Regions from separate parts of the Homo sapiens genome. Here region 2 is linked to region 1. The links come from fine-mapping of genetic effects on gene expression. A gene starts in region 1. The other region holds a variant in brackets. All regions are shown on one strand. Distances are between the middles of the regions.

Evidence for each region. PIP is the estimated chance that this variant, and not a neighbour inherited with it, causes the effect. A credible set is the group of variants that fine-mapping cannot tell apart.
Region 2: its variant is the best candidate, but not a certain one, in a credible set for the expression of MED24 in caudate (GTEx, PIP 0.60).

What each region holds. Positions count from the first base shown.
Region 1 is chr17:40,052,079-40,057,454 of GRCh38, reverse strand. MED24 (mediator complex subunit 24) reads left to right here and starts at 3,047. Exons shown (of 26, transcript NM_014815.4): 1 at 3,047-3,094; 2 at 3,820-3,986; 3 at 4,075-4,157. The coding sequence starts at 3,857. RefSeq lists an enhancer at 2,788-2,847.
Region 2 is chr17:40,267,854-40,273,229 of GRCh38, reverse strand. The region is part of intron 5 of WIPF2 (WAS/WASL interacting protein family member 2); the gene reads right to left. Among named protein-coding and RNA genes, the nearest start is that of CDC6, 17 kb to the left of the region's middle. The variant C/T (reference allele first, on the strand shown) is at 3,093.

The DNA.
Region 1 (5,376 bases):
TCTTGTTGCCCAGGCTGGAGTGCAATGGTGCAATCTCAGCTTACCGCAACCTTCGCCTCCTGGGTTCAAGCAATTCTCCTACCTCCATCTCCCGAGCAGCTGGGATTACAGGCATGCGCCACCATGCCCGGCTAATTTTGTTTTTTAGTAGAGATGGGGTTTCTCCATGTTGGTCAGGCTGGTCTCGAACTCCTAACCCCAGGTGATCTGCCTGCCTTGGCTTCCCAAAGTGCAGGGATTAGAGGTGTGAGCCACCGCGCCCGGTTGGGGGGCTGTTTTTTTGTACACCCAAAGGAAATGTTAGCATCTCTCTTCACCCTTTGGAGGATTATCATGGGGTCCCGGTCCTGTGCTTGCAGTGAGCCAGAGAGCCCAAGGGGGTCCCTAGGAAGATATTGTGGTGTGGAAGGAAGAGGTGATATAGGAAAGGCTGCCTCTGATGTTTACAGACTAGAGAGGCAGGGAGGTCAAAGTGGATAAACTAAAAATGGTCCTTGCCCAGAGCTAAGGGAGCCTTTGTACATAGGAGTCCAGCCTTTGGGGAAACCTTGCCAAGCCTAGAGAAAGGGCTGCTGGTGGGAGGTGGGGAGACAGAGAAGGCAGATGGCCTGACTACAAAAGCCGCCTCCCTGTCACTGCGAAGTGGGGAGGAGGCACCTCCCTAGAAATCTGCCAGGCTCCCTGCCAGAGGGAATGGTTTGAGCTCAAAATATCACCATCCTCAGGGCCCAAATAGTCCCCAGTCCTGTGTGGACCGGACACACAGTTGACAGCTTCTCTCCAAGAGAGGCAGTTTGGGCTCTGAGGTATGCGACAGGGGCTCCAGGATGATCCAGGAATGGCTCCAGGTGGAGGGCCTTAGGCTGTGGCTACAGGCACAGAATGACAGCAGGGGAGCAGGCAAAGGTAGAGTGAGGGGCCTGGGAGAACAGGGGAAGTCAGATATGTGAGAGACTGAGGAGAAGCAGGGTTTGTGGCAGTCTCAAGTATGAGTGGAGTGGCCGGGGGTCATCTGGAAGGTGAGGTGAGGAATCCGTATTTCCCTCCTTCCTGCTTTAGAAGCTTTGGCAACATATATTTGGCAGCTGTTTTGTATACACACTATTCCCCAATGGTGTCACTTGGGCAGGCACAAAGGGAGCCTAAGAGAGGGGTGTGGATTGAATGTATGGGGAGGAAGAAAGGCCATAGGCAGTACCAACCGCAGGAGGACATGATCTGACCCTCCTTCAGCCACACTCTCCCCTTTGGAACAGAAGTTCTTGACTCCCTGTTTAGACCATTCTCCAGACACCCAGGGCGCTGTAATTCTCTGCCCAAATGGCCACAGTTTTGCTTCCAGAGCCTTAAGTGGGCTGCTCTCCCAGATTTATCCTCCCGAGGACTGATTTTGCCACTCAAAGGGTGAGCAAAGAATGGTTGTTGGAGGCTAGGCACGGTGGCTCATGCCTACAGTCCTAGCACTCTGGGAGGCCAAGGTGGGTGGCTGAGGTCAGGATTTTGAGACCACCCTGGCCGACATGGCGAAACCCTGTCTCTACTAAAAATACAAAAATTAGTCGGATGTGGTGGCACACGCCTGTAATCCCAGCTACTTGGGAGGCTGAGGCAGGAGAATTGCTTAAACCTGGGAGGCAGAGGTTGCAGTGAGCTGAGACTGCGCCATTGCACTCCAGCCTGGGCAACAGAGCAAGCCTCCATCTCAAAAAAAAAAAAAAAAAGAATCTTTGTTGAGGAATACAGATTGAGCTTGAACTTGTGAACTAGGATATTGGGCCCTGGCTAAAGGCCTCCATGTTTATTTATTTATGTATTTTGGTAGAGCTGAGAGTCTCATTATGTTGCCCAGGCTGGATTTGAACTCCCGAGCTCAAGTGATCCTCCTTTCTCAGCCTCCCGAGTAATTTACTCTTATTCCTGGTTGTAAATGTTAGGGATGACCAGTCCATAGCATGGGGAGGGATGAGGGCTATGCATAAGAAGGCTCAGACATTGGAGCCTCCAGAGGTGGGTAACATTTGCTTTCGGGTTTCTCACTGGGGGAAGGAAAGGCTATGGCCAAAGCCCTGGGCATAATTTATATATGGATCTTTGGGATAAGCAAGATTTAAACAACAACAACAACAACAACAACAAGAAACTTAAAAAAACAAGTTTTTAATTTACAGGAAAAAAATGGAAGGTAATAGAGGGTCCCCACATATTCTGCACCCAATTTCTCTTTTTATTAACATCTTAGCATTAGTATTATGCATTTGTAACAACTAATGAACTAATATTGATACATTATTATTAATTAAAGTCCACCCTTTATTTAGATTTCCTTAGTTTTTACCCAGTATTCTTTTTCTCTTCCATGATCGCATTCAGAAAACCACATTACATTTAGTCATCAGGTCTCCTTAGCCCTCTTAGTTGTGACAGTTTCTCAGAATTCCTTTGATTTTGATCACCTTCACCTTAGTTTCCTCTTTACTTTCCCTTGTATCCAAGCTGTATGGAGGGCCTGGAGATTCTGATAGGACTGTAAGATTCGGGGACGGTGATATGTGTGCAACTAAGGCACCTCGGTGTCGCTTTTAGAATATAGTTGTGGAAATGAGAATAGCTCTGGTAGCTCCAGGGGCTTAGGAGAACAGAAAGAGCCCAGGAAAGGAGAAAGACCTTATTGCTGAACGCCACACCCTTGCCCCCACGCCACACCCTTGCCGCACCTACTAACTAGGGGCTAACGAATGAAAGGGTGTCGGAATATGATGGAGAAGCCCGGTCGACAGTGACGTCGTGGGCGACGCCGGGTTGTGAGCGGCCTTTCGAGCTCCCTCGAGTCCCTGAGTCTCTGTAGTGCCTCAGCTCCTGGATGTCCTCCCTTAAAGGAGAAGAACAATGCGGGCCGACTAGACGAGTCCCTTAGTTTCCTCGCCGGCGCAGACAAATACGGTTTCAGTCCAAGGAACTACCATTCCCAGAAGACAGCGGGGCGTTCCTTGCTGCATTTCTATTGGTTGGCGTTTGTTACTCCCAGCCAATAGAAAGTGAGCTTCTTGACAAGTGCCAAAATGGCGATGCCTACCACCTAGAACTGGATTGTGCGGTAGGCTTAAATTTGGGGAGGTGGTGGATGAAAAGGAAATTGGGAGGTATAGTTACAGGGCTGGAGAAGGTGGAGGAAATGAGGGAGCAAATCTGGACTTGGAATGGTGGTGGCCAAGGGACGCTTTTAGAGCTAAGGGCGTAATTAGGCAACCAGGACTGCCTTAACTCCTTGATGCCCTGTTTAATCTATTAGTCCCTTTGATACTTCTTTATTCATTTATTTGAGAGACGGAGTTTTGCTCTTGTTGCCCAGGCTGGAGTGCAATGGTGCGATCTCGGCTCACCCCAACAACCTCCGCCTCCCGGGTTCAAGCGATTCTACTGCCTCAGCCTCCCGAGTAGCTGGGATTACAGGCATGCACCACCAAGCCCGGCTAATTTTGTATTTTTAGTGGAGACGAGGTTTCTCCATGTTGGTCAGGCTAGTCTCGAACTCCTGACCTCCGGTGATTCGCCCGCCTCTGCCTCCCGAAGTGCTGGGATTACAGGTGCGAGCCACTGCGCTCGGCCGATACTTTCTTAGTGCCCCAGTTTAAGGAAGGGCGGTTCAGGAGGAGAGAGTCTGACAGGATCTTACTTTATCCCTTTAGCTCTTTTTCTTTCAAATTCCTCTGTCTCGCTTAAATCTTCCCGCATCTTCTCCTTTCTATTTAATTCTGCCTTCCCCGGTTCTCCTTAGAACCTCATGTCCTTTTCTTTAGCTCCATTTCTTTCACCTCAAAGCTGGCCGCCACCGCTGCCACCTGCTCAGAGTGAAATAATGAAGGTGGTCAACCTGAAGCAAGCCATTTTGCAAGCCTGGAAGGAGCGCTGGAGTGACTACCAATGGGCAATCAACATGAAGAAATTCTTTCCTAAAGGAGCCACCTGGGATATTCTCAACCTGGCAGGTCTCAAGTGAACTGGGAAAGAAAGATGGGAGGGATAAACCCAGAGAAGTTGTAATCACTCAGTTGTGTTTTGCTATTCCTCTTGCAGATGCGTTACTAGAGCAGGCCATGATTGGACCATCCCCCAATCCTCTCATCTTGTCCTACCTGAAGTATGCCATTAGTTCCCAGGTAAGCTTCCCGCAAACCCCCACCAAGAAGTGAGAGTTCTGGGGGTAAAAAACTTGGAGTGCATTTGGGCCCCGGTGGTTCATGGCTGTAATCCCAGCATTGTGGGAGGCTGAGGCAGGCGGATTGCTTGAGCCCAGGAGTTCAAGACCAGCCTGCGTAACATGGCAAAACCCAGTCTCTACCCAAAAATACAAAGAGTTACCCCTGCGTGGTGGTGCCCCTGTAGTCCCAGCTACTTGGAAGGCTGAGGTGGGAGGATCACCTGAGCCCTGGGAGGTCGAGACTGCAATGAGCCATGATCCTGCCACTGCCCTCCAGCCAGAGCAACAGAGTGAGACCCTGTCTCAGGAAAGAAACAAACAAACACAATTTGGGGTGCAGTTGTACAATTGTCAGCTTACTCTTTCTAGATGAAAGAGTAAGATTCTAGATTGATCTGTTTGAACAGATCATTTCAGTGAGTTTCAGTGTTCTCATAAAAATAATACTTCATTTGTTGTGATGAATATTACATTCACTTATTCTGCTGGGAGTGGTAGCAGGTAGCACAGGCCTGTGGCCCCACCTACTCAGAAGGTGGAGGTAGGAGGCTTGCTTGAGCCCAGGAGTTTGAGGCTACAGTGAGCACTGATTGTGCCACTGCACTCCAGCCTGGGCAACAGAACAACACTCCGTCTATTAAAAACAACAACAAGCAAAAGAAAAAAAGAGGATTACATTCACCTATTCTATCAACAAATACTCATGAATGCTTTTATGTGCCAGACAGTGCTTAGCCCCTGGGGAATATAGCTGTGAACAAAACCCGATGTCAGTACACAGAAAATTTAGTGGGTAATATAGACATGTAAATAAGCAGTCACTAGATGGGTTTATGATAAAGGTTAGGATAGAGTACAGATGCTCCTCAACTTACAATGGGGTGATGTGCTGATATACCACTCATAAGTTGAAAATGTACTTAATACACATAACTTGCCAAAGGTCATCTACCTACCTTTTTTTGAGTCAGAGTCTTGCTCTATCGCCCAGGCTGGAGTGCAGTGGCGTGACCTCGGCTCACTGCAACCTCCGTTTCCCGGGTTCAAGCGATTCTCCTACCTCAGCCTCCCGAGTAGCTGGGACTACAGGTGCCTGCCATCACGCCTGGCTAATTTTTGTATTTTTAGTAGAGACAGGGTTTCACTATATTGGCCAGGCTGGTCTTGAACTCCTGACC
Region 2 (5,376 bases), 220 kb before region 1:
AACTCCATCTCTACTAAAAATACAAAAAATTAGCCCGGTGTGGTGGCGTGTGCCTGTAGTCCCAGCTCCTCAGGAGGCTGAGGCACAAGAATCACTTGAACCTGGGAGGTGGAGGTTGCAGTGAGCCCAGATTGTGCCACTGCACTCCAGCCTGGGCAACAGAGAGAGACTCCATCTCAAATACATAAATAAGTAAAAAAATAAAGTCTCAAAGCCTTTGCTTACATAGTAACCTACCACACCAATCAGCTTGAGCTTGGCTTCTCCTCTTCCCTTCTTATTGCTAGGCTAGGTTAGGAGCCCTCCTCTGCACTTCCACTGCAGCTTGTGCATACCTACCACTTGAATAGACTATTATAATTATTTATTCTGTGTGCTCTTTCCCCAGTATACTGTGTACCCCTTGATGTCAGAGCAGTTCCTCCTTCTGGGTTCCCAAGTTCAGCCAAATGTACAGCACACAGCAGGTGCTCAATCAATGTTTGCTGAATAAACCAAATTATATGCTTTGCTCTTGTGACTCCCCTCACAATATTCTGATATCCCCCCTTCCCTTACTACCAAATCCTCCCTACCCTTCAAGGTTCAATCCAAGTCCCATCTTCTCAAGGCTTTCCCAAAGCAATCCATTTTCTTCTGAGTCCCTCCACCTCTGCTCTCCCACAGCATATACAGGCTATGTCACTTACTCTAATATCAATGAGCGATTTTCAAAATATATACAGCAGATTCATTGTGGGAAGTTACATATGTCCAGTAACAGTCTCATTGCTCAAACACTGCAAACACCTCTTTTGGAATTGCCTCCAAAGCAAGTTTATCAGTCAGAGCTGTAAACACTATTATATGATGGTCACATTTCATTTCTGAGGTCGCCCCACCACCATCACCAATGAAAATATTCATACCTATGCCAGGCACGGTGGCTCACGCCTGTAATCCCAGCACTTTGGGAGGCCGAGGCGGGAGGATCACCTGAGGTCGGGAGTTCGAGACCAGCCTGATCAACATGGAGAAACCCAGTCTCTATTAAAATACAAAAATTAGCCAGATGTGGTGGTGCATGCCTGTAATCCCAGCTACTCGGAAGGCTGAGGCAGGAGAATTGCTTGAACCCAAGAGGCGGAGGTTGCGGTGATCCAAGATCGTGCCATTGCACTCCAGCCTGGGCAACAAGAACAAAACTCTGCCTCAAAAAAAAAAAAAAGAAAATGTTCATACCTATGTCTGAATCTGCTTTTTGGTGATTCCAAAAATCAAATTCACTCTTAAAAGATGAAAATTTGCCACCAAGTAGAAGGTAACGTCAAAAGCATGTGTCAAGAAATGGCAATATGACTGGAATATAATAGATTCTAACGTGTTTGTCTTACTCCTATGCTCTGTATTAACTAACAATAATAGCAGCTACCATTTATTGGGTATCTATTATGTTCCAGGCATTTTCGGTGTATTAAATCTTTAAAAAGTCTTATAGCCACACATGCGAAGTATGTAATATTATCCCCATTTCACAAATGAGAAAACTGGGACTCAGGTTATTTGTTTAAGGTCACAGATCAAATAAAAATAGGCAAGGCACATGTCTGCTCTTTCTACTCTCCCACACTGCTTTTCGTAACTCCCAGTATTCTGCATAGTATCTTCCCAACCAGATTTACAATCCAGTGGCTTGGAAGTGCATCTTTTGGTATCTAGGCCATGTTCAATTTTTTTTTTTTTTTAAGAGACAGGGTCTCACTCTGTCACCCAGGTTAAAGCGCAGTGGTGGAATCATAGCTCAGTGCAGCTTCAAACTCCTGGGCTCAAGCAATGCTCCCGCCTCAGCAAAGGGCTGGGATTATAGGCATGTGCCACAGCACGTGGCCCAATAAATAGTTGTGACCTAAATAGTATGTGAAGAGACTACTCAGCTTAACAGACAAAACTGTTTTTAGTAGTAAAACGGTATCTTGGCTAGGCATAGTGGCTCACATCTGTAATCCCAACACTCTGGGAGGCTGAGGCAGGCAGATTGCTTGATGCCAGGAGTTCGAGATCAGCCTGGGCAACATGATGAAACCTCACCTCAAATTTTAAAAAAGTACAAAAATTAGCCAAGCGTGGTGGCACACGCCTGCAATCCCAGATATTCTGGAGCCTGAGGTGGGAGGAGCTTGAACCTGGGAGATGGAGGCTGCAATAAGCCAACATCGCGCCACTGCACTCCAGCCTGGTGACACAGCAAGACTGTCTCAAAGAAAAGAGTATCTTATTATTCCTCCTGATTACTATCAGAATTGCTGTAGTGACTATAGTTAAGCATGTAACACAGTAATAGAATAACATACACACACACACACACACAATCTGGCACAATAAGCCCAATAAATGTTTTTGCTTCCCGTAAGACACACTCAGAATGTCAACTCTTCCTCACTGTTTCCAAGCTTTGTTCAGTAGAAACAGGGGACACTAGATGCAATAATTAAAGAGAAATCTTGTAACTCCCAGCAGATCTCTGAGCCTTGTTTTGATTCCAAATCTACTCAAACTAAAGCTCTTTAAGAATAGAAGCTTCTTTAAGCCCTCAAAAATATTCCCTAAAACCCAGATTCCTCAAGGCCCTGAGAATTTGTATCTACTCCTAGGCCAGGGCAGCAAGGTAAACAGGGTTAGCCAGGTTCACAAGGACACCGACACCAGCTAGACACCAGGCAGGTGACAGCGATGAGACGACCTGGAATGGCAAAATAGAGCAGGGTAAGAGTGATCTGTTTGGCTTCTCCAGCTCCCTCCCTCATCCCAGCCAGGTTCTGCTGTCTCCAATAAGCTTCTGGGCTCTTTGTCAGATCCAGTTATTTTTCTTTTTTTTTTTTTTTTTTGAGACGGAGTCTCGCTCTGTCCCCCAGGCTTGAGTACAGTGGCACGATCTCGGCTTACTGCAAGCTCCGCCTCCCGGGTTCATGCCACTCTCCTGCCTCAGCCTCCCCAGTAGCTGGGACTACAGGCACCCGCCACCACGCCCGGCTCATTTTTGTATTTTTAGTAGAGAGACAGGGTTTCACCGTGTTAGCCAGGATGGTCTCAATCTCCTGACCTCATGATCTGCC[C/T]GCCTCAGCCTCCCAAAGTGCTGGGATTACAGGCATGAGCCACCGCACCCGGCCCCAGATCCAGTTTTAAGACTGTTTCAAGTGACAGAGCCAGAACTCCAGTCCCTAAAAAACAATTTCCAAAAGAAGTCCTGGGATGGGAGACAGGCTTTTGTAATCCAAGATTAACCCTAATTTTGAGAAAAGTATGATGGTTTCTATTTTTCTCAAATTCCCTTAAAAATGGACAGTGTTGGCGGGTGCAGTGGCTCATGCCTATAATCCCAGCACTTTGGGAGGCCAAGGCAGGCGGATCACAAGGTCAGGAGATAGAGACCATCCTGGCTAACATGGTGAAACCCCATCTCTACTAAAGATACAAAAAAATTAGTCGGGTATGGTAGCGGGTGCCTGCAGTCCCAGCTACTCGGGAGGCTGAGGCAGGAGAATGGCGTGAACCTGGGAGGTGGAGCTTGCAGTGAGCCGAGATCGCGCCACTGCACTCCAGCCTGGGCGACAGAGCAAGACTCCATCTCAAAAAAAAAAAAAAAAAAAAAAGACAGTGTTTTACTCTGCAAAGAAAAAATTCTTGAAACAAACTCTATGAACCAATAATGCTAGTTTTTGGGTTTTGGGGGGGCGGGTTTTGAGGCAGGGTCTTGCTCTGCTGCCTAGGCTGGAGTGCAGTGGCGTGATCTCAGCTCTCTGCAGCCTCTGCCTCCTGGGCTCAAGTGATCCTCCCATCCTAGCCTCCCAAGTAGCTGGGACCACAGGCACACGCTACCACGCCTGGCTAGGTTTCTTAAATTTATTTTTATTTATTTATTTATTTATTTTTTGAGACAGAGTCTCGCTCAGTCACCCATGCTGGAGTGCAGTGGTGCAATCTTAGCTCACTGCAACCACAATCTCCCGGGTTCAAGCGATTCTCCCGTCTCAGCCTCTCGAGTAGCTGGGATTACAGGCACCCGCCATCATGCCTGGCTAATTTTTGTATTTTAGTAGAGAGATGGGGTTTCACCATGTTGGCCAGGCTGGTCTTGAACTCCTGACCTCAGGTGATCTGCCTGTCTCAGCCTCCCAAATTGCTAGGATTACAGGCGTGAGCCACTGCACCCGGCCTAGTTTTTTTATTTTTTGTAGTAATGGGGTTTCACCATGTTGCCCAGGCTGGTCTTGAACTCCGTCTCAAGCGATCCTCCTGCCTCAGCCTCCCAAAGCACTAGGATTACAAGTGTGAGCCTGTGTCCCTGACCCCCACTGTACTTTTCAAATGTACATTTTACAGGTGAGAAAAGAGAATCGGTGAGAAAAGAGAATCAGTGATCTGTCCAATGTCACACAACAAATCGAGGCAATACTCAAATGATCTCTGACTAAAATATCTCAATTTTTTTCTGGTTTATCACTCTTAAGAATTGCTGCTCTAGCCAGGTACAATTGCTCACATCTGTAATCCCAGGGCTTCGGGAGGCCAAGGTGGGAGGATGGCTTGAGCCCAAGAGTTTGAGTCCAGCCTGGGCAACACAGACCTCATCTTAAAAAATAAAAATAAAAAAAAATTTTAATGAGCCAGACATGGTGGCAACACTCCTGTAGTCCTAGCTACCACAGAGAAAGAATGGAAAAGTGGGAAGCAAGAAAGCCTGCAGACATTTAAAAGTGCTCAGCTCAACCCACGGAAATTGCATTTTTCTCTTCTTCTATTCCTGGATGAGGTCAGAAAGATATGAGCTTTGCTCAGACAAAGAGTCTTTTGTAAAATCCCTAAGTTAAAAAAAAAGTCAAACCTGAACTTTATAGAATCAAGGGCCACCTTAGCACTACCTCATTATGGCTAAAGCTAGGGAGATATGGGATCAGGAATGCAGTAGGCCACTGTTTGGCTGCCCTATGTTAGATGGCCAGCTGCTAGAGTACAAATCTGTATGTACTGAACAAAGAAGCTGCACACAGGTTAATGGACTTTTAATGCCTTGCTACTTAATGATATAACCTTTACCCTTTTTTTGGGACAACGTCTTGCTGTGTTGCCCAGGCTGAAGTGCAGTGGCACTAATACAGCTCACTGCAGCCTCCACCTCCCAGGCTCAAGTGGTCTTCCCACCTCAGCCACTCAAGTAGCTGGGACTACAGGCATGCACCGCCATGCCAGGCTAATTTTTTAAAATTATTTTTTGTAGAGACAGGGTTTTGCCATGTTGCCCAGGCTGGTCTCGAACTCCTGGGCTTAAATGATCTGCTGGCCTCAACCTTCCAAAGTGCTGGGATTAAGGCGTGAGCCATCATGCCCAGACTCCATGAC